Linked DNA regions of Homo sapiens: all the other regions are linked to region 1. The links come from fine-mapping of genetic effects on gene expression. A gene starts in region 1. Each other region holds a variant in brackets. All regions are shown on one strand. Distances are between the middles of the regions.

What was found.
Region 2: its variant is fine-mapped to the expression of CPXM1 in iPS cells (iPSCORE, PIP 0.95).
Region 3: its variant is fine-mapped to the expression of CPXM1 in whole blood (TOPMed, PIP above 0.99).
Region 4: its variant is fine-mapped to the expression of CPXM1 in aorta (GTEx, PIP above 0.99).
Region 5: its variant is fine-mapped to the expression of CPXM1 in thyroid (GTEx, PIP 0.96).
Region 6: its variant is fine-mapped to the expression of CPXM1 in thyroid (GTEx, PIP above 0.99).

What each region holds. Positions count from the first base shown.
Region 1 is chr20:2,797,840-2,802,925 of GRCh38, reverse strand. CPXM1 (carboxypeptidase X, M14 family member 1) reads left to right here and starts at 2,299. Exons shown (of 14, transcript NM_019609.5): 1 at 2,299-2,525; 2 at 4,033-4,200; 3 at 4,389-4,498; 4 at 4,635-4,774; 5 at 4,868-4,958. The coding sequence starts at 2,354. RefSeq lists enhancers at 1,756-2,741, 2,742-3,729, 3,730-4,717.
Region 2 is chr20:2,946,230-2,951,315 of GRCh38, reverse strand. PTPRA (protein tyrosine phosphatase receptor type A) reads right to left here. Exons shown (of 24, transcript NM_001385305.1): 3 at 3,292-3,334. Among named protein-coding and RNA genes, the nearest start is that of PTPRA, 75 kb to the right of the region's middle. The variant T/C (reference allele first, on the strand shown) is at 2,548.
Region 3 is chr20:2,956,639-2,961,724 of GRCh38, reverse strand. All of the region lies in intron 3 of PTPRA (protein tyrosine phosphatase receptor type A), which reads right to left. Among named protein-coding and RNA genes, the nearest start is that of GNRH2, 84 kb to the left of the region's middle. The variant C/G (reference allele first, on the strand shown) is at 2,093.
Region 4 is chr20:3,115,634-3,120,633 of GRCh38, reverse strand. The region is part of intron 3 of UBOX5 (U-box domain containing 5); the gene reads left to right. All of the region lies in intron 5 of UBOX5-AS1 (UBOX5 antisense RNA 1), which reads right to left. Among named protein-coding and RNA genes, the nearest start is that of UBOX5-AS1, 11 kb to the right of the region's middle. The variant G/C (reference allele first, on the strand shown) is at 2,860.
Region 5 is chr20:1,924,379-1,929,464 of GRCh38, reverse strand. It overlaps SIRPA (signal regulatory protein alpha), which reads right to left. Exons shown (of 8, transcript NM_001040023.2): 5 at 4,588-4,701; 6 at 1,566-1,590. Among named protein-coding and RNA genes, the nearest start is that of PDYN-AS1, 20 kb to the left of the region's middle. The variant A/G (reference allele first, on the strand shown) is at 2,375.
Region 6 is chr20:2,751,814-2,756,899 of GRCh38, reverse strand. EBF4 (EBF family member 4) reads right to left here. Exons shown (of 17, transcript NM_001395167.1): 12 at 4,913-4,978; 13 at 4,637-4,814; 14 at 4,355-4,543; 15 at 1,076-1,273. Among named protein-coding and RNA genes, the nearest start is that of CPXM1, 46 kb to the left of the region's middle. RefSeq lists a silencer at 4,496-4,675. The variant C/T (reference allele first, on the strand shown) is at 2,364.

The DNA of each region.
Region 1 (5,086 bases):
GCAACAGTTAAAGTCTGAAATTCTTGAATGAACTTAGAGGGATCCTGACTAAATGAACCCAACTTGGATTGAATTTGCAAAAGATCAGACATGATCAGAAAAGGGACATGAACTTGGCTTGTTCCCAAATCTTCATTAGCCACCTTAGGGAGAGGCAAAATATTTTGGGGATTTTTCTGAGGACTCTGTACTAGTAGCATATGTGACTCCCCTGAGAGTATGTGAAGGGGAGAAAGTATTTGGGTATGTGGGTGGGAGATTGACTAGGGAATGGAGCAGATGGAGAGGGTGTAGGTGAAGAGTGAGCAGGTTGAGGAGGATGTAATAGGCAAAAGGAAGGATCATCTAAGACATCAGAACCGGGAAGGGAGGACGTTCCTTGGAAGCATACATGACAATTTGTATGTAATTTTGGGTTTGGATTTGGGGATAAAGCAAAAAAGACCTGAACATATGGGACTTCTGAATCCTTTCCAAGGTTCCGGCAAAAAATCAGTTAAGTTGTAAAGTAGCATTGCAATCCCAAGTTTCATTAATTGGCCAAATTGATTGATTAGGGAGCTTGTATTGAACCCAAGCAATATTAGAAAAAAGGATATGCTTTTTAAACTCTTATTTATTTTTTATTTGTATTTTTTGAGACAGAGTCTTGCTGTGTCGCCCAGGCTGGAGTGCTGTGGCGCCATCTTGGCCCACTGCAACCTCCGCCCCCGGGGTACAAGTGATTCTCCTGCCTCAGCCTCCCTAGTAGCTGGGATTATATGTGCCCGCCACATATAATTAGCCCCCTGGCTGATTTTTTTTTTTTTTTTGTATTTTTAGTAGAGACAGGGTTTCGCCATGTTGGCCAGGCTGATCTCGAACTCCTGACCTCAGGTGATCCACTCGCCTCGGCCTCCCAAAGTGCTAGGATTACAGGTGTGAGTCACTGTGCCCGGCCAAGTTTTGCATTTTTAGTAGACTCCCGGTCTTTAACTCCGGACCTCAGGTGATCTGCCTGCCTTGGCCTCCCAAAGTGCTGGGGTTACAGGCATAAGCCATTGTGCTCAGCCTTATATGCTTATTTTTAAGAGTTTGTGGGTCAAAATGAGACCAATGGGACCATTTTTAAGGAGGCAATCCAAGGGCGAGTTGGATGGAACTGAATTAATTGAACCGAAGTTGGGTTTAGACAAGGAACTACAAGATCCCTGAGGCATCCCTGTGTAGAATTGAGATCCACCGCTTCCAGGACAAGGCTTATGGAGTGTTAAAATGAAAGTGCCCTGCCACTCTGACAGGCAATAGCTCTTTTGTCTTGGCCTTGGGGTAATACCGGGGGATGGCGCTTGGCCAGAAACTGTCAGTTGCCAACGAGAACTCAAGCTGGTTCACTGGCAGTCCGAAAACAGAAAAGAGCCCTGGCCAGTCCCTCACCCCTAAGGGCAAGGACAGCCAGGTATCCCTTCTCTAGGGCTTCAGGATCCCACAGAAGAGCTGCCTCCACCGGGACCGGCAGTTCCCCAAAGAGTAAAGAACCAGACCGTGGAAGGAAGCAGAGAGAAAAAGGAAGAGGGAAATCCCAGTGAAGTCCCCGTATGGGCCACCAAGATGCCAGGCGAGGTGTCAGAGCTCCGGAACCGGGAAGTGGTTGGCTCCCGGGTGGTAAAAGAACTTATCAACAACCGTGTAGGTCTGAAAAGGAAAGTTTTATTAGACGGAAAGGACGAGGCAGCAGAGCGCAGTAGGCGCTTCAGCAAGAGAGGACTGAGCTCCCTGCGGGGAACTGCAGGGTAATTTGGACCACATTAGTCACTTAGGTCATGGTAAATGGTTACATTTGTCGATATTTTGGTGCCTTGATGTCAGCAAAGTTTGCACAATGGGTCTTAACGTGCACTCATTCCGGAAACGTACAGAAATTCTAGTTACTTATAAATTCTTGGGACGGAAGCTTGGTACCAGATGTGGCTTTAGACAATAGGGAAGTGTCATTCTGAATTGCTCAGATAAGGGGCTTTGCCTCCTGTTGGTCGACTTGATGGCCACCAGGTGATCTCTGGTCTCTTCAGTGTGGCTTTGCAGACTATAAAGGCGCAGCGCGCCAACGAGGCGGGTTGGCCCCAGACGGCGGAGAGGAAGGGCAGAGTCGGCGGTCCTGAGACTTGGGGCGGCCCCTTGGAGGTCAGCCCCGCTCGCTCCTCCCGGCCCTCTCCTCCTCTCCGAGGTCCGAGGCGGGCAGCGGGCTGTGGGCGGGCAGGAGGCTGCGGAGGGGCGGGGGGCAGGAAGGGGCGGGGGGCTCGGCGCACTCGGCAGGAAGAGACCGACCCGCCACCCGCCGTAGCCCGCGCGCCCCTGGCACTCAATCCCCGCCATGTGGGGGCTCCTGCTCGCCCTGGCCGCCTTCGCGCCGGCCGTCGGCCCGGCTCTGGGGGCGCCCAGGAACTCGGTGCTGGGCCTCGCGCAGCCCGGGACCACCAAGGTCCCAGGCTCGACCCCGGCCCTGCATAGCAGCCCGGCACAGCCGCCGGCGGAGACAGCTAACGGTGAGTTCCCCGACCGACGGTCCGCTCCCCCGCAAGCCGACTGCCCGGCTCTCCTGCCCCGTGGGGCGATCCCTCCCTAACACGCGGGCACACGCACACCCACGCACACTCACAGTCATGCACACTCACCCCGCACGCACACTCGCACTCACGCGCACACACGCGCGCGCACTCACACACATTCACACACGCGCACACTTGCACTCACACGCGCGCGCATTCACACGCATGCACACACACGCACACTCACACGCGCGTGCGCGCACACACAGTGCACGCGCGCGCACACTCACACTCACAGTGCACACACACATATACACACTCACACTCCCTCAACTCCCTGCTGGGAGCAATGGCTGCTGACTCGGCAGCCCCAGTTCCCTGCCAGACCTAGTCAGCAGTCCCAGGACAGGCGCCAGTGGGATGCTGCCTCTTCCAAGCCCCAAACCTTCCCTTTTCACCAAAGACAAAACAGGCCAGAACTGGCAGGAGGGGAGACAGAGGGGCAGAAGCTCTCAAGGTGCAGAGCAAGACTGCGTAGGAGAGAGTTTGAAGGCGAGGGCTGGAGAGAAAGAACAAAAGGAAAGAAGGGAGAGCCCCTCGCTGAGGCTGCCGGGAGGATGGGGCAGAGCGGGAGAGGAAGGCAGCCCGACCTCCCAGCTTTCCAGATGTGGAATAGGAGAGGAGGAGCGCAAGCGGAGGGCACTCAGGGGCTTCTAGAGGAGGCAAGTGGAGGAGGGTCTTGAAGGGTGATGTCCCCGAGTCAGGGGAGTCTGGAGAGAGAGAGAGAGAGAGGGCTGCCAAGAAGGAAGCGGCGGGCAAAGGCACAGGGGCACCAGATGCGGAAATGGGCAGCCTGTTCTGGAGGCAGCTGTGGAGCTTCGATGGGTACCCCCAGCACCTGCCTGGGCAGAGCCTTGTGCTGAAGGGCCGGCGGGCAGGCCCAGCCCTGAAAGCCTCGACACCCAGGCAGACATGGATTCCAGGACAGGCCATCTGAGCCCAGAGAGCAGACACAACAATGGAAGCGGCACAGGGGTTTTGGGGCATGATGCTGAGTCTGGAGCTAAGAAAGCCTCCTTGGAAAGGCATCTGGGCTGAGATGCAAAGGAAGAATGGGAATTAGGTGAAAAAATCAGAGGCGAGGGGTAGCATTACAGGGGAGGGGATAGCTAGTGCAGAGGCCCGGAGGTAAAGTGCCAGACTCAGCTCTTTGGAGCAACCGAACAGTTTCTAGAGGCTGGGTGCAGCTCTCCATTGGATTAGAGGTTCACAGGGGAGGCTGGCCAAGCATGTAGTTACATCAGGGAGGAGAAGGAGGAGCCAAGGAAGTGACTGGAGAGGCAGGTTGGGGTCAGATTGCAGGCCTTTGATGTCCTGTGAAGGCTGTTAGATCCTGGTGGTGTGGCCTGCTGTGGGCTCACATGTCTTCTTGGGCTGGCAGACCTTTCCATCCGGGGTTTCACCATTCTTCCTTTCCCCCATGCTGTGCCTCTCGGACCCCAAGGGACCTCAGAACAGCATGTCCGGATTCGAGTCATCAAGAAGAAAAAGGTCATTATGAAGAAGCGGAAGAAGCTAACTCTAACTCGCCCCACCCCACTGGTGACTGCCGGGCCCCTTGTGACCCCCACTCCAGCAGGGACCCTCGACCCCGCTGAGAAACAAGAAACAGGTACTTCCTCTCCAGGGGCCCAGCCCAGACTTGCAGCCCCTGGGGCACTTTACCAGCACAGCTCTTGGCCTCATGGGCACCGGCACGCCCCTTGCTTGCCTAGCGCAGGAGCAACCTTAGGCTCAGCTTCCCACCTGCCCTGGCTACCCTCCCTCTGGTCCTGTCTCACTGTTCTATCCCCGCCCCAGGCTGTCCTCCTTTGGGTCTGGAGTCCCTGCGAGTTTCAGATAGCCGGCTTGAGGCATCCAGCAGCCAGTCCTTTGGTCTTGGACCACACCGAGGACGGCTCAACATTCAGGTCAGTAATCCTGGCTCGGAGCCATGGTCTCAGGGTAGGGAAGGCAGCCCCTGGGAGCTTCTCTCCTGCCTCCTCTCTGTCCTGGCCTGCCCCACTCTGTCCAACTGGGCCTGACCACCATGTCCTGTGTCTGCAGTCAGGCCTGGAGGACGGCGATCTATATGATGGAGCCTGGTGTGCTGAGGAGCAGGACGCCGATCCATGGTTTCAGGTGGACGCTGGGCACCCCACCCGCTTCTCGGGTGTTATCACACAGGGCAGGAACTCTGTCTGGAGGTGAGGCAGACTAACCCTAGGTCAGGAGGTCACAGAAGGACTGGGGTGGGAGTCCTGGGGGCACCGATGATCTCTCTCCACCTCTCCTGCCAGGTATGACTGGGTCACATCATACAAGGTCCAGTTCAGCAATGACAGTCGGACCTGGTGGGGAAGTAGGAACCACAGCAGTGGGATGGACGCAGTGAGTGGTCCCACTGTGGCTGGGGCCTCCATGCTGGGAGTTGGGCACCCAGTCCAGGCTAGGCTGAGGCTCCTCTGAGGACAAGGAATAGACGCCAGCTTAGGCTTCCCAGGGGGGTGTGGCTTGTT
Region 2 (5,086 bases), 150 kb before region 1:
ATCCTGGCTAACATGGTGAAACCCCGTCTCTACTAAAAATACAAAAACTAGCTGGGCGTGGTGGCGGGCACGCCTGGAGTCCCAGCTACTCGGGAGGCAGAGGTAGGAGAATGGTGTGAACCCCGGAGTCGGAGCTGGCAGTAAGCCGAGATCGCCCCACTGCACTTTAGCCTGGGTGACAAAGCGAGACTCCGTCTAAAAAAAAAAGAAAGAAAGAAAGAAACAAACAAACAAACAAACACATGGTTAATACTATACTACATGATTTCACTTGTATAAAACTCTAGAAAATACAATCTAATCTATAGTGGCAGAAAACAGACCAATGGTTGCTTAAGGATGAGGGAGTGGGCAGGGGCAAGAGGCAGTGATTATAAAAGACACAAGAAAACTTTGGGGAGAGATTATATGTTCACACTCTTGTTGTGGTGATATTTCCCTGCTATATACATGGATCAAAATGTAATAAATTTTACACTTTAAATGTGTACAGGTTATTGTTACATCAATTATAAAGTTGTTTAAGAATTATAGGAATAATCAATGAAAAGAAATACAATGAAAAGAATTTCATTTTATTGTATAATAAAAATGAAACAAAGCCAAAAGTAGTTATTTGATAAATTAACAAACAGGTAAAAAGAGAAGACACAAGTAAATTTTTTTTTTTTTTGAGATGGAGTCTCGCTCTGTCGCCCAGGCTGGAGTGCAGTGGTGCGATCTCGGCTCACTGCAACCTCCGCCTCCTGGGTTCACGCCATTCTCCTGCCTCAGCCTTCTGAGTAGCTGGGACTACAGGTGCCTGCCACCACGCCCGGCTAATTTTTTTTTTTGTATTTTTAGTAGAGACGGGGTTTCACCATGATGGCCAGGATGGTCTCGATCTCTTGACCTCGTGATCCGCCCGCCTCGGCCTCCCAAAGTGCTGGGATTACAGGTGTGAGCCACGACGCCTGGCCCACAAGTTAATATTATAAATCAAATGTGGAAATAATTACAGAAGTAGCAGATAAAAAACAGATTATCCACAATTATAGGCAAATAAAACTAAGAAAAATGAACGAATCTCTAGAAAAAGAATAAAAAACTAGCCCAGGAAGAACAAAAGACCTGAATATTCTTACAATTAAAGAGGTTGACCACAAGTTCAAATTTGTCCCACATAAAAAACACTGGACCCAGATGCTATTATAGGTGAGAAAACAAGAGTGACTAGTTCCCAGCTCATTCTAAGGAGAGAGCAAAACCAGGCACCAAAACTGGACAGAAACATTACAAGAAAGAAAATCACAGGCTCACTTTTACACAATAATATATATTCAAAAATCATAACAAAGTATCAACAAATTGAATCTAGCATATAAAAAAGATAAATCATGATCCAGTTGAGTTTATCCAAGATATACAAGGATATTTTAACATAAAATCTATAAATATAATTCACCCATATTAAAAGAGTTCATACAACCATTTCAACTGATGTAGAAAATGCATTAGATAAAAACATATGAATTCAAGATTTTAAAAAATCCTTTTAAATAGAAATAGAAGAAACCTTCCTTAACCTGATAAAAGTTACTATTTAAAAAAAAAAACAATACGCAATTATCTTCAACAGAGAGAAACGGAAAGCATTCCTTTGAAAATCAGAAATAAAGTAATCTACTATCACTTCTATTCAGTATTGTATGAAAAGTCTGCCTTCGCAACAAGAAAAGAAATTTGGCCAGGCACAGTGGCTCATGCCACTGTAATGGCACTTTGGGAGGCTGAGATGGGAGGATTGCTTGAGCCCAGGAGTTCAAGACCAGGCTGGACAACATAGCAAAACCTTGTCTCTACGAAAAATTTTAAAAAGAAAAAGAAATTAAAATTATAACAATTAGAAAGGAGACTAATACTTGCAGAAAATCTGATTGTTTACATAGAAAACCTACGAGAATTTAGGCCAGGCATGGTGACAAAGCGAGAAAACATCTGAAAATAAAAAAATTAAAAAAAAAAAAAAGAAAATCTACAAGAATCCATAGGAAGTAAGTTATTGGAAATAACAGGGTAACTTTGTCAAGGTGATTAGATAGGTAATTTTTATACCCTAGCAAAAATAGCCACTGATTTGCACTCAAGAAAGGGTCTATTAGGTTAGGCAAGAACTAATCATGTGTAAATACTGATAAGGAATCAGATGGGAAGGAAGGGAAGGTACATAAGAAAGGCAAAAGTGGGAGAAGTTGTAGAAAAGTGAGAGAACTGAAATCTGACATCTTAAAGATTTCCCCATAAGTATGCAGCAAGATCACAGGCAAAGAGAGAAGGGGGAGATAGTGGGATATGGTTTTTTATTTTTATTTACTTTTTTTTTTTGAGACGGAGTCTCGCTCTGTCACCCAGGCTGGAGTGCAGTGGTGCAATCTCGGCTCACTGCAAGCTCCGCCTCCCGGGTTCACGCCATTCTCCTGCCTCAGCCTCCCCAGCAGCTGGGACTACAGGTGCCCGCCACCACGCCCAGCTAATTTTTTTCTATTTTTAGTACAGACAGGGTTTCAC[T/C]GTGTTAGCCAGGATGGTCTTGATCTCCTGACCTTGTGATCCGCCCACCTTGGCCTCCCAAAGTGCTGGGATTCCAGGCGTGAGCCACCGTGCCTGGTGGTTTTTTAAAGTATTAAGAATAATACTGGTGCTATAGAAAATGGCGGGAAGTGCTGACACCAGGCAGCCCAGCAGTCCTGAGGGCCCAGGTGAGATAAGATCCATTTTTCCAGGATTCTTTTCTGAAAAAATGCTCTAAGCACTAATGGTATGGCAAACATACAGAATTAAGGTTTTGCTAGATGAATGTAATGAAACTATAAGCAACGAGGTTGAGTACTGGGAAGAGAATGGATGAACTGCTGAACCACAGAGTCTAGCATTGACAGGAAACTAAAGCAGATACTAGAGACATTAGAGAAAATAAAAAACTTAAGTGGCTAAAACCCCAAAAGTTGAGAATATTTTATAGTGGGAATAACATAGTAGGTAAACTGGAAGGCTCCAAGAAGCTAATTTCACCAGAATTTTTTGGAGCCTATTGTAGTTGATGGGCTATAGTCCTTGAAAAATCAACACATATCACTAATTTTAAATACCATTCCCTTGACATGTATCGGTCTCAGTAAAATGCAAATCCTTTACTATGCACCCCCACCCCAGATTATGCCATAAGCAGCTTGCTAAGTAGCCCTTCAGAATTCCATGTTTCCTTTCTTCCTCTATTCTTGTAGAAAAAACTTAAAAAACTATTTCAGTACTTACTAGCTTCTTTTAAAAAGTTAATTATGCTCTTTGAACATGTGTCCTAGAAAAAAAGAAATAAAAAACAGTTAATTAGGAGTATCTAGGTTATGTGAAGCATTCATCAACCTCCTATTGACAGAAATTATCGATAGGCAAATTTTATATATAAGTAACTTTAACATGAACACTTCTTAAACTTTGGCCTCATAATTTCACAAAAATTAGGCTGCAAGTCACCATATTCATCAGATACTGGCAGACACTAACTTCTGCGGCTATGACACCAAGCAATACTGAAATCTCTTATCTTTCCAGGGGGGTTGTTCATGTATTCAGTGTTTGCAAAGAGTTCCTGCTGAGCTAAACACAGTCCACTGTGCACTCTACGAAAGAGTCCATGAGACAAGCATGGGGGAGGGTAGGAAGTTTAATACTTTCACAATGCCTGTGGAGACGCTGGCAGTGATGAAAGCCTAGAAAACTCATGAAAGGACCTTTTATGAGCAGGGTGAATGTAGAGCACAAAAGCAAAGTCAGATGACCCACTTAAAGCTTTGCCTTTACTGATGAGAATTCATTCTCATTCCAGATTAGTCTCTCTCTAGAAAAAGCAAACCTTATATAAGAGTTGGAAAATTAAGATACAGGAAGTATAATTCTACTAAATTCCAGTTTTTCCTTCTCAAATATCAGCCTAAGTCCTAAGGTCTGTGGCCAAAGACAGAAAATACAAGGCGCTGAGAAATATGCTATTTATCTTGGTGTAACAATCTCTGACTGTTGGGGTTTGAGGAAATTTAAGCTCTACAATCCATAGATCAGACCAGAAGTTTAGGGTAGTAATATTATGAGAGGAAATAGTTTCTTTCTGGAACTTATATAAAGCAAATAAATGGTAAACCTGATTTGCAAGGTAATGACAGTCCAAGTTCCTTCAAAGCAGAGAACCACTTATTTGCTCATTCATTCAACTAAGTTCCTTGTCTTGTGCCAGGCTGGAGAGAGAAAGCAGCTCCTGTCCTCAAGGAGCTCACATCTCAGGCATCTTCTCACCCTCCTTTCTCATGTTAACCAAAACATTTCAGGTTCATCAATGAAACTCTTCATCCAGGAGGCAGATAAAATGGCTTCTCTTCATTTTGATTCATTTACTCTTTCTTTTATTTATTTTATTATTATTATTTTTTTTTTTTCTGAGAAGGAGTCTCGCTCTGTTGCCCAGGCTGGAGTGCAGTGGCGTGATCTCGGCTCACTGCAACCTCTGCCTCCCGGGTTCAAGCGATTCTCCTGCCTCAGCCTCCCAAGTAGCTGGGATTACAGGCATGCGCCACCACGCCCGGCTAATTTTTGTAATTTTAGTAGAGATGGGGTTTCACCATGTTGGTCAGGCTGGTGTCAAACTCCTGACCTTGTGATCCGCCTGCCTCAGCCTCCCAAAGTGCTGGGATTACAGGTGTGAGCCACCATGCCCGGCCTACTCTTTCTTTTAAACAGAGAAATAAGATGGAATATTTTTATCCCATCTTTTCTTCTGTAATTAAAAAAGGAATACGAAGAAACTTGACATAGTCTCTCTCCTCATGTGCTCTCTTACTTCCCATCCCAATTCCATGTTTGCTCTCTTTTTCCTCTCTCCTTCTGTTTTGTTGTGAATGAAGAATTAGGTAACTAGTCCAAAACTACAGAGCTACACCTGGAGCCTAGATTCACTGGTAGCCAAATCACTAATTTTTCTGAAGGTAAATGGGAGAAAAATGGGGGTTGGGGGGAAAGCTCATTAATACAGTTCTAAGTCAATCTCAACTCCCCACTG
Region 3 (5,086 bases), 160 kb before region 1:
GAAGATAACAGGAGAAAATCTAGATGACTTTGGGTATGGCGAGAACTTTTTAGATATAACATCAAAGGCATGATCCATGAGAACATAATTGATAGTCTGGACTTCATTAAAATATAAAATGTCTACTCTGTGAAAGACAATGCCAAGAGAATCAGAGGATAAGCCACAGACTAGGAGAAAATATTTGCAAAAGATAGATCTGACAAAGGACAGAGAATTCTTAAACTCAACAAGAAAAATAACAACCAGATTAAAAATGGGCAAAAGACCTGAAGAGACACCTCACCAAAGAAGATAAACAGTACGGCAAATAAGCATCTGAAAAGACACAGAACATCAAGTCATTAGGTAATTGCAAATTAAAACGGGATACCACTACACATCTATGAAAATGGATTTTGGTTTTAAAATCCAAAACATTTGACAATACTACATGTTTGTAAGAATATGGAGCAGCAGGAACTCTCATTCACTGCTGGTGGGAATGCAAAATGGTACATCCACTTTGGAAGGCAGCTTGGTAGTCTCTCAAAAAAATAAATAAGCTCTTACCATATGATCCAGCAATTGTGCTCCTTGGTATTTAACCAAATGAGATGAAAACTTATGCCACTTAAAAAAAACCTGCACATGGATGTTTACAGCAACTTTATTTATAATTGCCACGACTGGGAGCAATCAAGATATCCTTCAGCAGGCGAATGGATAAATAAGTGATGGCACATCCAGACAATGAAATATTACTCACTGCTAAAAAGAAATAAGCTAAAAACATGAAAATACGTAGAAGAAACTTAAACATATATTACTAAGTGACAGAAGCCAATGTGAAAAACCATGGAGACAGTAAAAGATCACTGGTTAAAAAAAAAAAAAGAAAATAAAAAAGGCCAGGTGCGGTGACTCATGCCTGTAATCCCAACACCTTGAGAGGCCAAGGCAGGCAAATTGCTTGAGCTCAGGAGTTCAAGACCAGCCTGGACAACACAGCAAGACCACATTTCTATAAAAAATACAAAACTTAGCTGGGCATGGTGGTGTGTGTGTGTAGTCTCAGCTATTTAGGAGGCTGAGGTGGGAGGATCACTTGAGCCTGGGAGGTCGACGCTTCAGTGAGGAGTGATCATCACTGCACTCAGGCCTGGGTGACAGAGCAAGACCTTGTTTTTTAAAAAAAAGGTAGGGCGTGGTGGCTCATGCCTGTAATCCCAGCTTTGGGAGGCCGAGGTGGGCGGATCACGAGGTCAGGAGATCGAGACCATCCTGGCTAACATGGTGAAACCCCGTCTCTACTACAAATACAAAAAATTAGCCGGATGTGGTGGCGGGCACCTGTAGTCCCAGCTACTCGGGAGGCTGAGGCAGGAGAATGGCATGAACCCGGGAGGTGGAGCTTGCAGTGACCCAAGATGGCGCCACTGCACTCCGGCCTGGGGGACAGAGTGAGACTCCGTCTCAAAAAAAAAAAAAAAAAATCAGTGGTTGTGCAGTTAGGAAAAGGGAGAGAGGAGTAAGCAGGTGGAGCAGAGGACTGTCAGGGCAGTCAAATTCTTCTGTATGATACTACAATGGTAGACACATGTCATTATACATTTGTCCAAATCTACAGAATGTACAACACCAAAGCTTGGGTGATAATGAGGAGTCAATGTTGGTCCATCAATTGCAACAAAGGTACCACAGTGGTGTAGGATGTGGATAATGAGGAGGCTGTGCAGGTGTTGGGGACAGGTGGTATTTAGGAATGCTCTATATTTTCTTTCTTTCTTTTTTTAGGACGGAGTCTCACTCTGTTGCCCAGGCTGGAGTGCAGGGGCATGACTGTGGCTCACTGTAACCTCCACCTCCCAGGTTCAAGAGATTCTTCTGCCTCAGCCTCCTGAGTAGGTACAGTTACAGGTGTGCACCACCACACCCAGCTAATTTGTGTATTGTTAGTAGACATGGGGTTTCATCATATTGGCCAGGCTGGTCTTAAACTCCTGACCTTGTGATCTGCCCACCTTGGCCTTCCAAAGTGCTGGGATTACAGGTGTGAGCCACCGCGCCTGGCCGGAACTCTCCATACTTTTTGATCAATTTTGCTGTGAAC[C/G]TGAAACTCTCTAAAACACAAAGTCTATTTTAATTTTTATTTTTTCTTATTTCTCTAAGAAAAAAAAAGTCTATTTTAAAAAAGAAAATGAACTGTCATAAATAATTGAAACAAGAACTCATAACAATACTGAAAACATAACAGTCCAATTTTGAAAAATCTGAAGGACCTAAACAGATAATTTACAGACGAGAAAAACGAACAGCTAAGAAAATACACAAAGAAGTGTTGACTGTCCCCACTAATCAAATGAATATAATGAGATTACATTTTTATTTTCCAAATCAGAAGAGATCAATCATATGAAATATCCAGTGGTTAAATACTGGTGGGAGTAACAATTAGCCTACAATAAAAATTCCTTTCCAGAAAGGTAATACAAGAACAAGGGAAAAGAACAAATGCATGGTGATGGAAGCTGTGGAGAGAATTGGTATGCGTACACTAGGGAGGAAAAGACACATCAGAAGTTAAGAAGATCCATGTCACTAACAGGTACTATATCCATAGACCACGACCAGGAAAATCACAGTGAAAACCTCATCCGTCTCCGAGAAAGACTTTGAGGCAAACTCCTGTGACTTCCCGACCCCCCATATACAATGCATTTGCAACAACACTATCCTTACTTCTCTCTCTGGTTTCCAAATTTCTACTCCAACATCTCAGAGCTCCATTTCAGGAAGTAGGGTTGAGGTCCTCCTCACTCCTCAAGAATGCCATATGCAAAGCATTTCTCCTGGAGCCTGCTCTAACAGTCCCTGTTCTTTTTTTTTTTTTTTTTTTTTGATACAGTCTCGCTCTGTTGCCCAGGCTGGAGTACAGTGGTGTGATCTAGGCTCACTGCCACCTCCGCCTCCTAGGTTCAAGCAATTCTCCTGCCTCAGCCTCCCAAGTAGCTGGGATTACAGGCGCGTGCCACCATGCCTGGCTAATTTTTGTATTTCTTTTTTTTTTTTTTTTTTTTTTTTTTTAGTAGAGATGGGGTTTCACCATGTTGGCCAGGCTGGTCTTGAACTCCTGACCTCAAGTGATCCACCCGCCTTGGCCTCCCAAAATGCTAGGATTATAGGTGTGAGCCACTGTACCCGGCTTAACAGTCCCTGTTCTTGAAAGCTTTTTGCCCTGTGCTTTCCTATCACTGAAGACACTGTAAGTGGCTCAGTTTCCTTCCTGTCCCCCAGGCCTGCTATTCTCCTGGATGACTTCAATATCCTCATGGATGACAACCAAAATCCCCATCTAGGCCAGCCTCTCAGTTCCTTGACTTCCTTCACTCCAACAACGCTTTATCTCTGCTACACTTGGGCCACTCACGACAATGGCTGTACTCCAGATGCTGTCATCACCCAGAAAAGCCCCCATACTGAATAAATCTTGCCTTCCCACTCTCCAACCACACTTTCTATCCTTGTAGTTCTCTCTGTTATGTCTACCACACCTGCTCTCTGACCTCACCCAGGCCTTCAGTCTCTTGAACCCCTCTCTAATTCTTTTCAATATCTCTGCTCTATCTTTATTTCCTTTTCTACCAAATCAAGAAAACTTGGTGTCAGTTCAATCATTCTTTTGTCCTAACTTCCTTCACTACACTGTTCTTCTTTTACACCAACATGGAAAGAAAAATCCCAAACTGTCAGCCCTATACTTGGACTGCCAGATGCTGCTTAAAAAAAAAAAAAAATCAAATAACTCATAAGGGTTGTATCACTACAAATCACTATTTCCGCTTCAGTGGAACCCTAAGCACTTTCTGCAGTCTTTCTGTCTTTCCTTAGCTCTCTCCAATTCTCCATAGCGGTGCCTTCAAACCTCCTCTCCCCTCTAACCATCTCCTCCCACACATGTGGCTGTTGGCCTTGCCTACCCTTCCAAGAAAATAAAAGCCATTGGACTAGACACCCTTAACTCCCCAGTCACTATATCCAGAAATTTTCCCCTTCCCTGAAATTCCATCCAGGAATCTCAGTCCTTTAGGAACCCTGCATTTTTTTCTACCACCATCTCTAGCTTTAACCCCTCCCTTTCATACCAGTTTTTAACACAATTAAGTTTTCAAAGAAGATGAAAAATTTCTTTGCATCTACATCAATCCTTCAGCTATCATTGTCTCTACTCTGCTTCATAGCCAAATCTCTAGAAAGAGTTGTCTCTCCATGGCAATCTGGCTTCTTGTTCCACCATTCCACTAAAACAGCTGCTTCCAGCCTAAAAGTAAAATGGGTAAACGATATGAAACATAACTCACAAAAAACCATACAGTTCTCTTAAATCTATGAAAAGATGCTCAACCTCACTGATGATCAAAGAAATCAATGCTGAGATACCATCTTTTTTTTTTATTATTTGAGACGGAGTCTCGCTCTGTCGCCCAGGCTCGAATGTTGTGGCGCGATCTCGGCTCAGTGCAAGCTCCGCCTCCCAGGTTCATGCCATTCTCCTGCCTCAGCCTTCCGAGTAGCTGGGACTACAGGTGCCCGCCACCACGCCTGGATAATTTTTTGTATTTTTAGTAGAGACAGGGTTTCACTGTGTTGGCCAGGATGGTCTCGATCTCCTGACCCCGTGATCTGCCCGCCTCAGCCTCCCAAAGTGCTGGGATTACAGGCGTGAGCCACTGCGCCTGGCTGAGATACCATTTTTTAATCTATCACACTGGCGAACATAAAAAACTTTGATAATGCTGCATTGGCAAGAGTTTGAGTAAACAGGTACTCTCATATAATCTATAAATATTCATCAGAATTACAAATGCACAACCCCTCTGACACAATTCCACTTCTGGAAACTTATTCCACGGATACATATCCATACTTTCAAAGTGACCCATGTACAAGGTTATTCAATGTAGCATTGTTTTCAAGAGAAGAATACTGGAAATACCCTTAACGTCTATCAATGGGGGAGAGAGACATGATTAAATAAATTATGGCTGATTTATTTATTTATTTATTTATTTATTTATTTATTTTTATTTACTGAGACAGGGTCTTG
Region 4 (5,000 bases), 320 kb before region 1:
CGCTGTGTCGCCCAGGCTGGAGTGCGGTGGCATGATCTCGGCTCACTGCAAGCTCTGCCTTCCGGGTTCACACCATTCTCCTGCCTCAGCCTCCCGAGTAGCTGGGATTAGGCGCCCGCCACCACGCCTGGCTAAGTTTTTGTATTTTTAGTAAAGACGGGGTTTCACCTTGTTAGCTAGGATGGTCTCAATCTCCTGACCTTGTGATCCACCCACCTTGGCCTCCCAAAGTGCCGGGATTACAGATGTAAGCCACTGCACTCGACTTCTGTTTTTTTTTTTTTTTTTGAGATGGAGTCTCGCTCTGTCACCAGGCTGGAGTGCAGTGGCGTGATATTGGCTCACTGCAACCTCCGCCTCCCAGGTTCAAGTGATTCTCCTGCCTCAGCCTCTGGAGTAGCTGGGATTACAGACGCGCGCCACCACGCCCAGCTAATTTTTGTATTTTTAGTAGAGAAGGGGTTTCACCATGGTGCCCGGGATGGTCTCAACCTGTTAACCTCGTGATCCACCTGCCTCGGCTTCCTAAAGTGCTGGGATCTGCAAGCCACTGTGCCTGGCCTGCAACATTCTTGAGTATGAGATTTAAGGATCCTGGCTTCCTGCCTCTTCCCTGGGGCATTGCCAGTGATTTCTAGGGCCGGTGATGCTGCTCTCTCCTGAGGTGAGCAGCCCTGGTTCACTGGGTGACCTCTGCAGCTGAATGTGTTCAGTGTGAATACCTCAGGGCAAGCTGGATGTTGGATCTTAGGCTGAGATAGATGTTTTTTTGTTGTTGTTGAGATGGAGCCTCACTCTGTTACCCAGGCTGGAGTGCAATGGCGCAATCTCGTCTCACTGCAGCCTCCGCCTCGCAGCTTCAAGCAATTCTCCTGCCTCAGCCTCCCAAGTAGCTGGGATTACAGGCATGTACCACCACACCGGCTAATTTTTTGTATTTTTAGTAAAGACAGGTTTTCACCATGTTGGCCAGGTTGGTCTCGAACTCCTGACCTCAGGTGATTCGCCCACCTCAGCCTCCCAGAGTGCTAGGATTACAGGTATAAGCCACCGCGCCTGGCCTGAGATAGATGTTTTTATCATGTTAAAGAAGTATTGGTTATCTATTGCTAGGTAACAAATTACCCCAAAACTTACTGGCTTACAGCAACAAACATTCATTGTCTCATAACTTCTGTGGATCACAAATCCCAGCGTAACTTGGCTGGATTCTCTGCTTCAGGGTCTTCCAAGTCTGCCATCAAACTGGTGGCTGAGGCTGTGGTCATCTCAAGGATCAACTGGGGAAGCATTTACTTCTAGTCTCACCCACATCATTGTTGCAAGATTCAGCTCGTTGATGCATTGTTGGACTGAGGCCTCACTTGCTGGTTGGCTGTTGGCCCAAGGCTGCCCTCGGTTCCTTGCCTTGTGGGCCTCTCCATAGGGCAGTGTACTGTGTGGGAGCTGTGCGTTCCAGAGAGAGTGCACAGACGAGGGAAATCCATCTTTTAGAATGTAATCTTGAAAGTCACACTCCTCACTTCTATTGTATTCTTATTTTTCCCAAGGTATTTGTTAATTGCTTATTTATAATATTAAGAGAAATGATTTCTTAGCCTCCATCTTCATATTTCTTAGTTCGAGAACACAGATCAGTGACAAACTTCTGTGTAATTCAACCTAAATAATTCCTTCCTTCCTTCCTTTTTTTTTGAGATGGAGTCTCACTGTGTCACTCAGGGTAGAGTGCAGTGGTGTGATCTCGGCTCACTTCAATCTCTGCCTCCCGGGTTCAAGCAATTCTCATGCCTCAGCCTCTGGAATAGCTGGGACTATAGGTGCGTGCCAACACGCCTGGCTGATTTTTTTTCTTTTTTTTTGAGACGGAGTCTCGCTCTGTCGCCCAGGCTGGAGTGCAGTGGCGCGATCTTGGCTCACTGCCAGCTCCGCCTCCCTGGTTCACGCCATTCTCCTGCCTCAGCCTCCTGAGTAGCTGGGACTACAGGCGCCCGCCAGCACACCTGGCTAATTTTTTTAATACTTTTAGTAGAGACGGGGTTTCACTGTGTTAGCCAGGATGGTCTTGATCTCCTGACCTCATGATCCACCCACCTCGGCCTCCCAAAGTGCTGGGATTACAGGTGTGAGCCACTACACCTGGCTGATTTTTGTATTTTTATGAGGCAGAGTCTCACTCTGTCACCCAGGCTGGAGTGCAATAGCACAATCTTGGCTCACTGCAACCTCTGCCTCCTGGTCTAAGCAATTCTCCTGCCTCAGCCTCCAGAGTAGTTGGGATTACAGGTGCCCACAACCGTGCCCAGCTAATTTTTGTATTTTTAGTATAGACTGGGTTTTGTCATGTTGGCCAAGCTGATCTTGAACTCCTGACCTCAGGTTATCTACCTGCCTCAGCCTCCCAAAGTGCTGGGATTACAGGCATGAGCGATAGTGCCCGGCCTGTTAATGGTTTCTTTTTGTTTTGTTTTTTTGGAAACAGTCTCCCTCTGTCGCCCAGGCTGGAGTGCAGCAGTGACGCAATCTCTGCTCACTGCGACCTCTGCTGCTGGGATTTAAGTGATTCTCCTGCCTCGGTAGCCAAGACTACAGGCGCACAGCACCATACTGGCTAATTTTTTTTATTTTTATTTTTATTTTTTGAGACAGAGTCTCATTCTGTCGCCCTGGCTGGAGTGCAGTGTCGCAATCTCTGCTCACTGCAACCTCCGCCTCCCGGATTCAAGTGATTTTCCTGCCTCAGCCTCCTGATTAGCTGAGATTACAGGCGCTCGCCACCATGCCTGGCTAATTTTTGTATTTGTAGTAGAGATGGGGTTTCGCCATGTTGGCCAGGCTGGTCTTGAACTCCTGACCTCA[G/C]GTGATCTGCCTGCCTCAGCCTCCCAAAGTGCTGGGATTACAAGTGTGAGCCACCACGCCCAGCCCTGTTATTTATTTATTTATCTATATAGTGACGGAGTCTCGCTCTGTCGCCCGGGCTGGAGTGCACTTGTGCGATCTTGGCTCACTGCAACCTCTGCCTCCTGGATTCTAGCAATTCTCCTGCTTCTGCCTCCTGAGTAGCTGGGACTACAGGCACATGCCGCCACACCCGGCTAATTTTTCGTATTTTATTAGAGACGGTGTTTCACCATGTTGCCCAGGCTGGTCACAAACTCCTGAGCTCAGGCAATCCACCCGCCTTGGCCTCCCAAAACTCTGGGATTACAGGCATGAGCTACAGCGCCTGGCCCCTGTTAATAGATTTTAATGGTTCTGTTTGCTAGTGTTAGGATTTTTGTATTCATTAGTGGGGTTGGACTGTAGTGTGTGTGTGTGTGTGTGTGTGTGTGTGTGTGTGTGTGTGCCATCTTTGGTCAGGTGTCATTGATGATTTTTTTGTTCCATAGAAAGAATTTAGAATTTTTTCTTTTCTGTGCTGTGGAACAATTGAATAGTATTGGAATACCCACTCTGCCTGTCTAGTAGAAGTCCTTGTGATTGTCAGTGCTTGGTGCTTGTGGAGGGTAGCTCTTTGACACGTTTCCTTTTTTTTTTTGAGATGGAGTCTCGCTCTGTCACCCAGGCTGGAGTGCAGTAGTGTGATTATGGCTCACTGCAACCTCTGCCTCCTGAGTTCAAGCGAATCTCCTGCCTCAGCTTCCCGAGTAGCTGGGATTACAGGCACGCACTACTACGCCTGGCTAATTTTTGTATTTTCAGTAGAGACAGGATTTCGCCATGTTGACCAGGCTGGTCTTGAACTCCTGACTTCAGGCGATCTGCCTGTCTCAGCCTCCCAAAGTGCTGGGATTACAGGTGTGAGCCACTGTGCCTGGCCTGGCAACCTTTTCTTTTTCCTTATGGAAATTATTCTGTTTAGGTTGATCATTCTTTTAGTTTCCTATGTTCTTCTAAAAGACTATGCAAATACTATGCTTAACGTTTATTTCTGTGTCTTTGGTTTTAAGAGTAAATTCTAGTTAACATGACCTTCAGAAACTCCTGGAAACATCTGAGGCGCAGTGGGGTGGAACAAGGAAAAAGGTCCTTAGACTTCAGCGTCAGTTTGTGGAGGTCTCAGTCCTGTTGGCCTTGACAGACTTGGTGACTCAGGACCACGCTGACTAGGGCTCCTTCAAGGCCCTGAGCTGATGTCCTGTGTCCTGCAAACAGTGGACAAAAGTTTCCATTCTCCTCTTTGAGACAGCATTGCAAATTTTTCTGCCACACAGGTCCCTGGGGTCTTTCTTGGGCAGCTGTCCCCCTACCCCTTTGGCCTTCACCCTCATTCCATGGCTTGGCTTTCTGTTGATCCTACACTAAAGGTCCCCTAAATTGTGGCGTGGTCAACGTGGGGTCTTAGTTCTATTCGGTAAAAACTGCTTTGTTTTACTTAACAGGAGAGAGAGGACATGAACACCTAGAAAATGCAGATGAACCCCTCTGGGGGGTGGTGGGGTCCCCAGAAGGGTGGAGTTAGGGAAAGAGAAGACTAAGGCCGCTGGGGAGGGAATGGGGGGCAGGGAGCAGCAGTCCAAAGCTGGCGTTTGCTTGCCCCAGTTATTTTCTTGGCCAGCAAGGAGGCCTTTAGAAAGGAGGCCAGGCGCTGTGGCTCACGCCTGTAATCCCGGCACTTTGGGAGGCTGAGGCAGGTGGATCACGAGGTCAGGAGATCTCCTAGCCAACATGGTGAAACCCCGTCTCTACTAAAATACAAAAAATTAGCCAGGCGTGGTGGCGCACACCTGTAGTCCCAGCTACTTGGGAGGCTGAGACAGGAGAATCGCTTGAATCCAGGAGGCGAAGGTTGCAGTGAGCTGAGATGGCACCCCTGCACTCCTTCTCAGCCTGGGCGACAGACCAAGGCTCCATCTCAAAAAAAAAAAAAAAAAAAAAAAGGAGCGTGCAGTTCTGCAGTTGAGCCACGAGGTGGCTCATGTCTGCCCAGCAGTTTCTCCAGGAGGAGAAAAGCCTGAAGCCGGTGGGATGGGCAGGAACTGCCGGTGTTCCTAGGGCTT
Region 5 (5,086 bases), 870 kb after region 1:
GCACCCCCCAACTCAGGATACAGCACTCCACTGCCCCCAACCTTGAGGTGGTCCTTAACCCTACAGCCAATCTATCAGCAAGTCCTCTTGTGTCTACCTTCAAAATATATCCAGAATCTGAGCACTTCTCAGCCCATCCCACCACTTTGGTCCAGGTCACCATCTTTTTCTGCTTGGACCAGTACCGCTATGGTCACCTACACATCCTCACCTCCTGTAGTCTGGGCTCCACATGTAGCCAGGCGACACTTTTAAAACAAAAGTCAGATCGTGTCCATCTTTTGGTTCCTCATCCCACTGCGGATAAAATCCCGAGTCCTTCTAACACCCACAGGCCCCACTCCAGATCATCATGTCCTATTCTGTAATTCTGAAACCCAGAAAGCTCTAAACCATCAAAAGATTGGCACTATGCAGTTGCTGGCAAAACCTGGTGTGAACCAACATGAAGCTATTTATAGTTTTATTTATCACTCTTAGCACGGATGTCCACATGGTTCTATGCAGATGGGTTCACATGGCAGATGATGGTGTGCTGCCTCTGCTCTGCTGGGGATGAAGATCAGAGGCCTTCCAAAAAGCCGATAAAGGCTTTTCACAGAATAGTTCGTAACACCTCTGACTGCAGGGGCATCTGCAAAGGACACCGGGATGCCGAGGACCTGGGTCTTCCTGACCTTATCTTCTTCCTCTCCTTCCCTCTGGCCCAGCACACAGGCCTCCTCTCTGGCCCAGCATGCTCCTGTCCAACATAGCTCACTAGTTTCAGGCACCCGTTTGCATCCCCTTTTCAGAGGCAGTCCCTTCCTCTGCCTAAGACAGCCCCCCACCATTCACCTCCATCTCCTTGCAGGGTAGGAGTTGTCACCACCTGATATGACACCATGAATCACTTTATTTCTGCGTTTATGCCTGTTTCTCTCACCGGCGTCTGAGCCCCATGAAAGCCTGGGCTGATTCTTGTTTACTGCTATATCACCAGCTGGTCCTGAGCAGGGCTGGCACATAGTAGGGACTCAAGTCACTAAAAATGTGAATCAACAAACTAAAGTGCCATCGGTGACGTACATCAGTGATGTAATGTCACCGTCTGAGCCTCTGACCAGGCTGTGAGCTTGCAGAGGGCACAGATTCTATCCTACTCATCCCGGCATTCCAGGGTCACAGCACGCCAAGGTACTCAATAAATATTTACTAAACAAAGGAAAGAGTAAAGTATACAACTTGGATCTGGGAGGATGCATCCGGTGGCGTGTGCAGGATGTCTGTGAGGACAGAAAGCCCGGGAGGTCTCTGCCCCAGTCCACATGGGATTAGACAAGGGTCTCGTTGTCTGGGAAGAGCAGGCAAGAAATTAGCACCTCTGTGCACCAAAAAAACCCCTCATTTGGGACAATAATTAAAAACAGCGTGACCCAGTGTGAGGAGGTTACAAAGGAGAGAAAGAGACATGTTGACCAACACATTGGTGAGGTCAGTGGACATGGATTATGCTTTGTAGTCTGGGGGGCTGTCAAATAACCAAATAATAACTGCAAGAGGGTCTGGACCAATGATGCACTTACCTTGTAGAAGAAGTGGAGCCCTGGGCTGAAAGACAAAAGAAACAAAAGCCAGTTGTTTAACTAGAAGCACACTTTTCTTATGTAACTATTTTTTGGCAAAAGGTTTGCCTCCAGGGACATGGAGAGGAAATGCTGTAATCACATCCTTGGAACCACAGGAGACCCCCATGCCCACCCAGTGGGCATCCTCTTCCACCAAGGAAGCCTGGGAAGGAGTAAGCTAGATGGTCCTGCTTTTCCACTTCTGGAAGTTGCCAGGGGTCCAAAAGCAGCCTTCAGCCTGGGAGGCGACAACCGCCCTACCTCTGTCTGGGTCTCACCTCCATTCAACCACAAACCTCAGCGGAGACCCTCCAACAAGCCTAGGTCCCAATCAGTGCCCTTCGTGGCTTGAAAACAGATTCTAGCAGGGCTGCAAATCGGGGATCATGTGTGAACCCCGGGTCTGCTACCCACTCACTCACCATGTGACCCCGGGTGGGTCACTTCCTCTCTCTCAGCTTCTATAACTTGCAGGGTTGGGCTGAGCATCCATTTATTTACATGCCACCACTTTCCAAAAAAAGGATCTTGGAAGGAAAGAAAGTGTCCATCTGGTTCAGAGGTTTTAAACCTGTGATATGGGGTAACCCACAGAGAAGCCTCCAGGGTTCAGCAGCCGTTTGACTCCCATTTTGCTGTAAAATTGTAATTAAAAAGCAACATGCACACCCAAATGCACTCTGCACCGCACTTTAATAGGCTGGAGGCTGCCACAGTGCAAGAATTCTTGCTGCTGGGTTAACGCTTGCTGCCTGGGCAGGTCCTGG[A/G]TCTTTAGATGAGGTGTACCAGTTGGAAGCTGTGCTCAGCACCGAAAGTCTGAGTGGAGGCTGACAGGTTGCAAAGTGCTGGACACAAGTCATCTCTGGGAATCCAGTGATAGGACACCAGTCACCCCCTTTTACACCAGAGAGACTAGGTGACTCCTCAGGGTCACACAGCTGGGTAGTGGTTGAGTTGAAATCAGGACATTTCACTGTGAGCATTGAGAGGCTGGGCAGACCCCTCCAGGGCCTAATGAGGGAGAAGGGGGGTCTAGTTATGGCGGAGGGAGGTAGTGTGCAAGGTGGTCCTAGACATGGTCCTTGGGTTTAAATTCTGGCCCCACCACCTCCTGGCTGTGAGGCCCTGAACAAGTTTTATAACTTTCCCATGCCTCAGTTTCCTCATCTGTAAAGTGGGGTTAGTAATGTCACCCATGAGGTCTGTGGTGAGCACTGACTGTTACTACAGGGAAAGCACAGTGAGCAGTGCCTGGCACATTGGAACTGCTGGGGGATACTAGCCGTCCCTGTCACTGGAGCCTGTGTTTGAGAGCTAGGCTCTGCACACAGACCTGCCACTCGGGCTGGGTGGCCTTTACCAGAGCTGCAGCCCTGCAAACTCCATTCCTCTGCAACACCTAAGCCCACAGTAATGAGCTCACGTGTGCCAGGAGCTGGCGTGCTGCCTGGGCCTGAGACTCAGAAAGGATGGCCAGGATTTCACTATCGGCTGCTATGAATGCTTCATCCCATGGGATGGGCTGTCACCCTTGGTGGGGAAGGGACCTGCTTCCCCATCCAAGGAGGAGTCCTCCCTGTGTGGGGCTCTCCAGGAACTTTAGGGAACCCATTGGGTAGACGTCTTGGTGGGACGTCTTGCAGATTCTGGAGAAGCAGGGCCTGACTCCAACCCTCCCAGACAGAAGCATCAGGCTTGGCCAGTATCTCAGAGCCAGCCCAGGAGGGAGGGAAACTTGGGAGGCAGAGGTGAAGGAGCTACTGAAGGGATGCGTGATTAGTGTACAATGTGCCCAACCAAGCTCAGCTGTGCCAGGCCACAGAAAGGCAGCTCGGGACAGCACTTGTCCCTTTGGAGGCGGTGGGTCACAACCAGCATTTTAAACAGAAAAAAGAATATGACAAAAAAGAAAATATCAGTTTTAATTTTATATACAAAGGGTGTGTGTATGTGTTGGGTTGAGATGTGAAATGTATTTCTATCTCTTGTAATAAAAAAAGGTTGCAGAAATACCAGCTTAAAATTGTCTTCTCCAAGAGTGGGAAAGAGAACATGTATTTATGGCGATCCTAGAATGTGTCAGACCCGTTATTTCACATGGGCTTATTTGGATCTTGTAACTTCTCCAAGACAGGCGTTGCTAAACCCATTTTACAGATGGGGAAACTGAGGCTTGTAGAGGCCAAATTGATTGTTTACAGTATATAACCAGGGTCTGGAACCCTGGTTTGTCTGACTTCAAAGTCAGAGGCCCTGCCACAGCAACAACCAACCCTCCCAACAACCAGCACACACACACAGACACACACGTAACACGTGCACACAAACAAGGGGAAGCGGTGTCCTGGGTTTGACCCTGTGCCCTCCTGCTGTGCAGTCAAAGGCTATGCACCTTGCCCTGTGAGGGGGCTTTCTAGGGAGGTGGCTCATATTTCTGGGCTCACATACAATACGGGTAATAATCAGGGCTGACATACATTGAGCACTTGTGTGCCAGGTTACTTCCCTAACATTTCCCATGCAATCACTTGTTAAGTCCTCCCAATCAAATGGTGGCGCTATTATCTCCATTCCCTCTGGCCTCCTGTCCAGGGACTGGTCATGTAACCTAGACTTGTACCAGGAAAGCAGAAGTCTGCCGGGAGGCTCCTGGGAAAGACGATGTCCTCCCTGAGACAGGTAAGAAGAGTCCCTGCCTCCTCTCTTCCCAGGCTGGCAGCTCCCTTGCTCAGTAGTGGCCCCTTGAGGACACGGGGCCTGGGGCAGTGATGAACATCTTGTAACCATGAGGGGGAAGCCACAGAGTGACCCACCCAGACTCTAACATGGTGAGGCCACTGCCCCAGCCCTAGCACCACTACCTCTGGACTTCTTGCTACTGGCAGAAGCTGATGTCCTTAACCCAAAGCACCTAATGGCGTCTCCCTCCGAGGACAGTCCAGGGACAAACCCTTAGGGAGGAAGAGGGGAATGCACCCACCTTTCTTCTGTCTGATTCGGACGAGGTAGAGGGCCGCCATCAGTAGGGCCACCAGCAAGGTGCACACCACACCCACCACAATATAGATGTTCCGTTCATTAGATCCAGTGTTCTCTAGGGACCACATGGAATAGAGGCTTCACGTATGCAGATTAAAAACAGAAAACCAAACCCACCACTGCTTTTCACCACTAAGCAGGCATCATTAACTGAGAACATCTGGCTGGACCTTCTTAGATGTCTCGAGCCACATGGGCACACTCATGGGTCTGTACACACTTGCCCACGAGACTCATCCATGAACAGCACAAAAACCATGCTGAGGTGCCAGGGGGGAATATATTTGTAGCTGACAGCTACGGAGGAACCCCTGCTGCAGGATACAGGCAGAAATCTCACTCCTGAGGAACAGAAACGTTCCTTCTCATCTGGAGTGAACCACAGAGCGGTCATGAGGGCACCCCAGATCCACTGGAAACTGAATCAGCAGCTGGAAGAA
Region 6 (5,086 bases), 46 kb after region 1:
TTTCCTAGAAGGTTCACAACGTACCCTGGCACATGAAAGGCTCTGACAAATTCTTCAGTAGCCACTTACGTAATTTCAACACTGATTCTTTCCTAATGCTCTGTTGCTCTGACCCATTATTGTCTTGGGGAATACTCAATAGGACGTGCTCTAACCCAACCTCTTCCAGATCAGTGCCCCACAAACTGCACTGCAGCCTTCTGTGTGGGTGTGAACGGTGCCCTTCTGACTCATATATTCATTCAATAATTTGACTATTTATTAAACACCTGCTGCATGCCAGATTGAGTCCTAGGGGATCCCGTGGAAGCATCCCTTAGCCAGAAAAGAAAACACCTGTAAGCCTCTTAGGGAAGACACTGGCCCTGGCCCCCACCATCCCCATCAACAAGGACCTGTTCTGCCCCACCCACATCCTGTTGCCTCCTCCTTTTCCACAGCCAGTCCCTTCCTCTGTCCTCCCAGTGAGTTTCCAATCACCACGTGGATAGGAAAGGCTCTGCTGGTTCAAAGGTTCTGCTGCACATGGGTAAAGTGAGAGAACAGCCATTTCATGAATGGGATGTGGGAAGATGACTTGGTCTCAAGTCCTAATCTGTAAAATGCGGGGAGGGAAGCTGGGCTAAGCCTCTTCTAAGGTCAGTCCCCTTCCATGGTCAGCGACCCAGTCCCTCACAGTGGTGTGTGCTACCCTCTGGTGGACACAGGGAGGCACAGGTACAGGCGTGCAGCCCACCAGCTCTGAGGGTCTTTGCTCTGGGCTCAGCTGGATGGGGATGGAGTGTTGGGGTAGTTTCTAGACCTCATCAACTGTGATTTGAGTCTCTTCCCCTTGGCCAAGTGGTCAACTGAGAGCATCCAGAATGGTGACCATCCCAGGCTGGGAGGCCAGGGCAGAGGGGGCCAGAGGGACCTCCCTGGACCCCAGCAGAGCTCCCTGCTCTCCGTCCTCCAAGAAGAGCAGGTTAGCCAGCATGAGGCACTGGTGAGATGTGGACAGAGCAGGCCCCTGTAGCCCAGCTGCTCCACAAGGGCCCTTCCTTCCTGCCACAGTGAGGCAGGGTGGATCACTCACCTGGAAGCCCCTCTCCGTGGGCTCTGGGGCAGGCCTGGGGTGGGGAGCTTGGGGGGCGCAGCACGGGGGCGAAGGCGCTCCTCTGTTTGACGGCGGAGATCATGTTGACAGGCGAGAAGGAGAACACGCTGGTGGTGGGGGCAGCGGCCGGGAGGGACATGGAGGAGGCAGCCGCCAGCGGGGGGCTAGAGGGCATGACTCCGGGGCGGGGCGGGGAGGGGCAGGCGCAGCAGGGAAGGTGGTGGGAGACACAACAGGGAGACAGCACCAGAGTGAGCAGCTTGGCTGGGGCCCCACATGGGCTGCTGACACAGGTACCAGGCTCAGATCTCACTGGGAGCTGTGAGGGTCCTGGGCCAGCCCTGACCTCTCAGCGGTTCTGGAGACCTTTTCTCGGGGCTGGGGATGACAGGGCCAGACCAGGTAAAGACAAAAGCAAAACCAGAACATTCAAAAAAAACAAACAGTGGGAGGTACCCCCCAAAAATGAGATGAGCAACAGCTGGACTACTTCAGGATTTCTGCTGAAAACCCCTGGGATTCTGAGATGCTAGGAAACATTTATGAGCCTTGCTTGGGGTGCCAAGGCTAGAGTCATAGTTCAGGAGTCACAGAAGAGCTGGAACAAGTAGTTAGGGATGAAGTTTGGGGGAACGCACAGGCTCCTGTTATAAGCCTCTCTGCCCAGCATCACAAACAGCACTCCAACTTCCTCCTCAAATATGCTCTCCTTGCCAATGTTCCCTATGCTCCTCTGTCCCTCTCCCACTTCCCCCTGCACCCTGGGGTACTTTGTTTCCTTACAGCTTAATGCAGGTCCTTGTCATCTCCAGCCTGGGCCCTGTGGGGGGGGGTGGTCTCCTGAATCTCCCACTTCCAGCTGGTCAATTTTAAAGCAAATTGCAGGGATGTACATCCTCAGATCTTCCTGCTCTCAAACTCCCTAGCCACCCAGGCTGCGGCTTGCCCTCCTGGGAATGGCAAGGGAGCCTCCTGCACACAGACTTTGCCTGCCCCCTCTTCCTGCAGCCTCCTCTCCTGGGGGCTCAGGCCTGGGGCATCGCTGGATCCCACCTTTCTACATCCTCATCTGAACCCAATTCCCTGCCTCTCTCCTGTAAAGACTGGTAAGGCTGTGATCTGAGTATTGTCCAGGCAGCAGGCAGTGGGGTGGGTGGGGCTTCCTGGAAGAAAGCAATAGCCTGAGAAGGCTGCCTTTGGCATCAGAGGGCCCTCCTACCTCCCTTGATACAAGAATGCCTTCAACAGCTGCCCCTCTTCCAAATGC[C/T]CTCAGCCTCATCTCCTTTAAGACAACAGTTACTGCCAGCTGGAGAGGCCCCAGAGCCCGATGAAGGGCTTGAGACCAATGCCAGAAAATGTACTATAGCTCTCAATGCCCAGGGCTCACGGCCACATTTTGTACCTTGGGTAGGTAGTGTGGGGAGTTGTGATTCATTCCAGGGTTGCTGGTGGCTGAAGCAGAAAAACAAAGAGAGACCCAAGCAAACAGCCCCTGAGCCTCTGGCTGGGGCAGTTCTGATGTCACTCCAGGAATGTTCTCGCAAACTCAATGAGAATGACACCCCTTGGAGTCGGGCCACAAAGCACCCTGAACGTGGGGAGTGGAAGGGTACCTGGGTAAGCCTCGGTCAAGACAATATCATGAAATGGGACCAACCCTCCCTCAAGTCCAGTGTGTCTCCAGCTGATGCTGGGTTTAAGCAGCTCTAGAATTCTTGATCTTCTTGCTGAATCAGAAGACCCCAGCTGGGCTGGGTTCTGCACACTGGGGCAGAGTGTTCCTCTACTGTTGACCACAGTGTATGTGATGTTCCATACCCCCACCAGTGTTGGCCCAAGGGGGTGCCCACAGAGAGGCTGTGAGGGTACTGCCCCAGAACTGAAGGGAAGGAGGAGCAGTCAATCCTGGCCTGAGCAAAGAGCCAGGAGAGGCAGGGGCCTTGGGAGGGACACCAGAAGGCCATGGCCTATGTGGACTCTGGCTTATGGGGCCTTGGGTCCCAGAAGTTGAGCCCAGGCCAGAGGACAGGGCCAGGCTCAAGCCTTCAGCCAGAAAGCAGGCAGGACACACGCCCTGCAAGGAAAGCCAGGCTGGTGGACAGACAGTGCAGTCTCGGCAATGGCAAATATGGGACAGGGAGAGGAGAGGGCACCACGGGCAAAGCCATGACCAGTTCCTTCTGGGACAGCCTTCACCACCTCTCCAGCTCGGCAGAGTCGCCTGGGACTTCAGGGACAATCTCTCTTATGATTGATAGGGAGGCTTCTTGCAGGTGACAGGAGTGGGGGGATCCCCCAAGCCCTGGGCTTTGCATACAGTGGGCGCTTTATAAATGCCTGCTGAATAGCTAAGCTAAAAAGAGCTGTGAACATGCTGATCTGGAACTTGATGATGGAAGAGTCTTGAGGGCAGTGTAAAATGACAAGGCATCAAAGCCGTTCGGAAGGTCACTCACTCATGACATGCAGACATTGCCTGTCCACCCAGCTCTGAGCTCCCCACTCTAAGAAGCCAGATGGGATGTGGTCAGCGCCCACAGTCAGGGCTGGGACTCCGAAATCACACACTGGCCCTTTAGGCACAGTGGCACATTCAGATCCGAGATCAACCTTAAGCAGGGGGTGGAATTGACCCTATTTGACTGCGAGGAAACAAGTTCAAATAAGTAACTTGCTGAATGCCCGGCAGCTCCTGATTTGGACACTGAAACTCAAATTCTGTCTGATCACACAGAACTCGCTCGCTCTGCCGGACGACATCGCGGGGACCACATCCTCCCCACGCCCACCTGGCCTCTGGAGTCCTGGGAGCTGGGGGGCGGCTGGAAGCCGGCTTCCCTCGAGCCCTGAGTTTCCTTAGGCTTCCGGCAGGCGGCGCCAGCCTCCTCCCCAAGTCCGGGCGCGAGATGGGAAGGGGGCGGTGTCCCAGGTTTCAGATGGACGCCCGCCACCCATTAGAGCCCACTTCAGGGGGACCGGAGGCCTAGAAGCGATGTGCATAACGGACCGGCAAAGAAGGCTAAAAGTGCACGGAGTACTCTGGCCCCAGGACCCCGGGATGTGCAGCCTAGGGGTGGGGTTGAGGTTCTGCGGCAGGGGAGGTCCCAGGCGGGGACGGTGGGCCTGACCCCGAGGGCTGAGCCAGGGTCGACTCTCACGGCGCCGGCGCCCCAACCTCTCCGGGATGGGCGGGGGCGGGGCTGAGTCCCGTTCCGCTCCCCGGCCCCAGACCTTCCCTCGCGGGCGGGGGACACTCACTGGCGAAGGGCGAGGTGGCGGTGGAGCCATTGAGGAAGCTGGGGGACCCAGGCACGCCGAGGCCGGCCACGCCCGGCGCGCCGTAGCCGCCCAGGCCAGCTCCGAGGCCGCCGCCGTAGCCGCTCTGCTGCGAGCCGGGGCTGGGCGCGAACCCGCGGGGGGACGCGCTGCTGCAGCTGCGCGCGTAGCCTGCGAGAGAGAGCGCGGCCGTCAGGGGGCGGTGCCGGCCGGGGAGGGGCGGTGGCGGCGCCCGAGGACGGCGGGGAGGCGCGGCCCACGCACCCGGCTCGGGCCCCGGGGTGGCGTCCCCGACGGCGATGGCCAGCGGGCTGCTGAAGGCGTTGATGCCCACGACGGCGGGGTGTGGGTGGCTCGGGGCCAGGGGTGCGAGCGGCCCGGGTGCGCGGGGGGTGCTGTACAGAGCCTCGGCCACGTCCGCCGCGCGCTTCAGGAGCAGCTCCTGCGAAGACAAGAGCGGGGCACGGCCGGGGCAGCCGCGGGCGCCGCGTGCTGGGGGGCCCCGGTCCCGGCGGCGCTGGGAGGGCGGAGGCGCCATACCTGGTTACTGCCGGGCACTCCGTACAGGGCTTCTGCCAAGTCGGCCGCCCGCTTCAGCAGCACTTCCTGGGGACAGGGGGAGAGACAGCGGGACGGAGGGGCAGCCCCTGGGGGCGACCAAGGGGCCCTCGGGAGCCCCTCCTCACCCCCTTGCCCACAGGACACCCTCAGCCC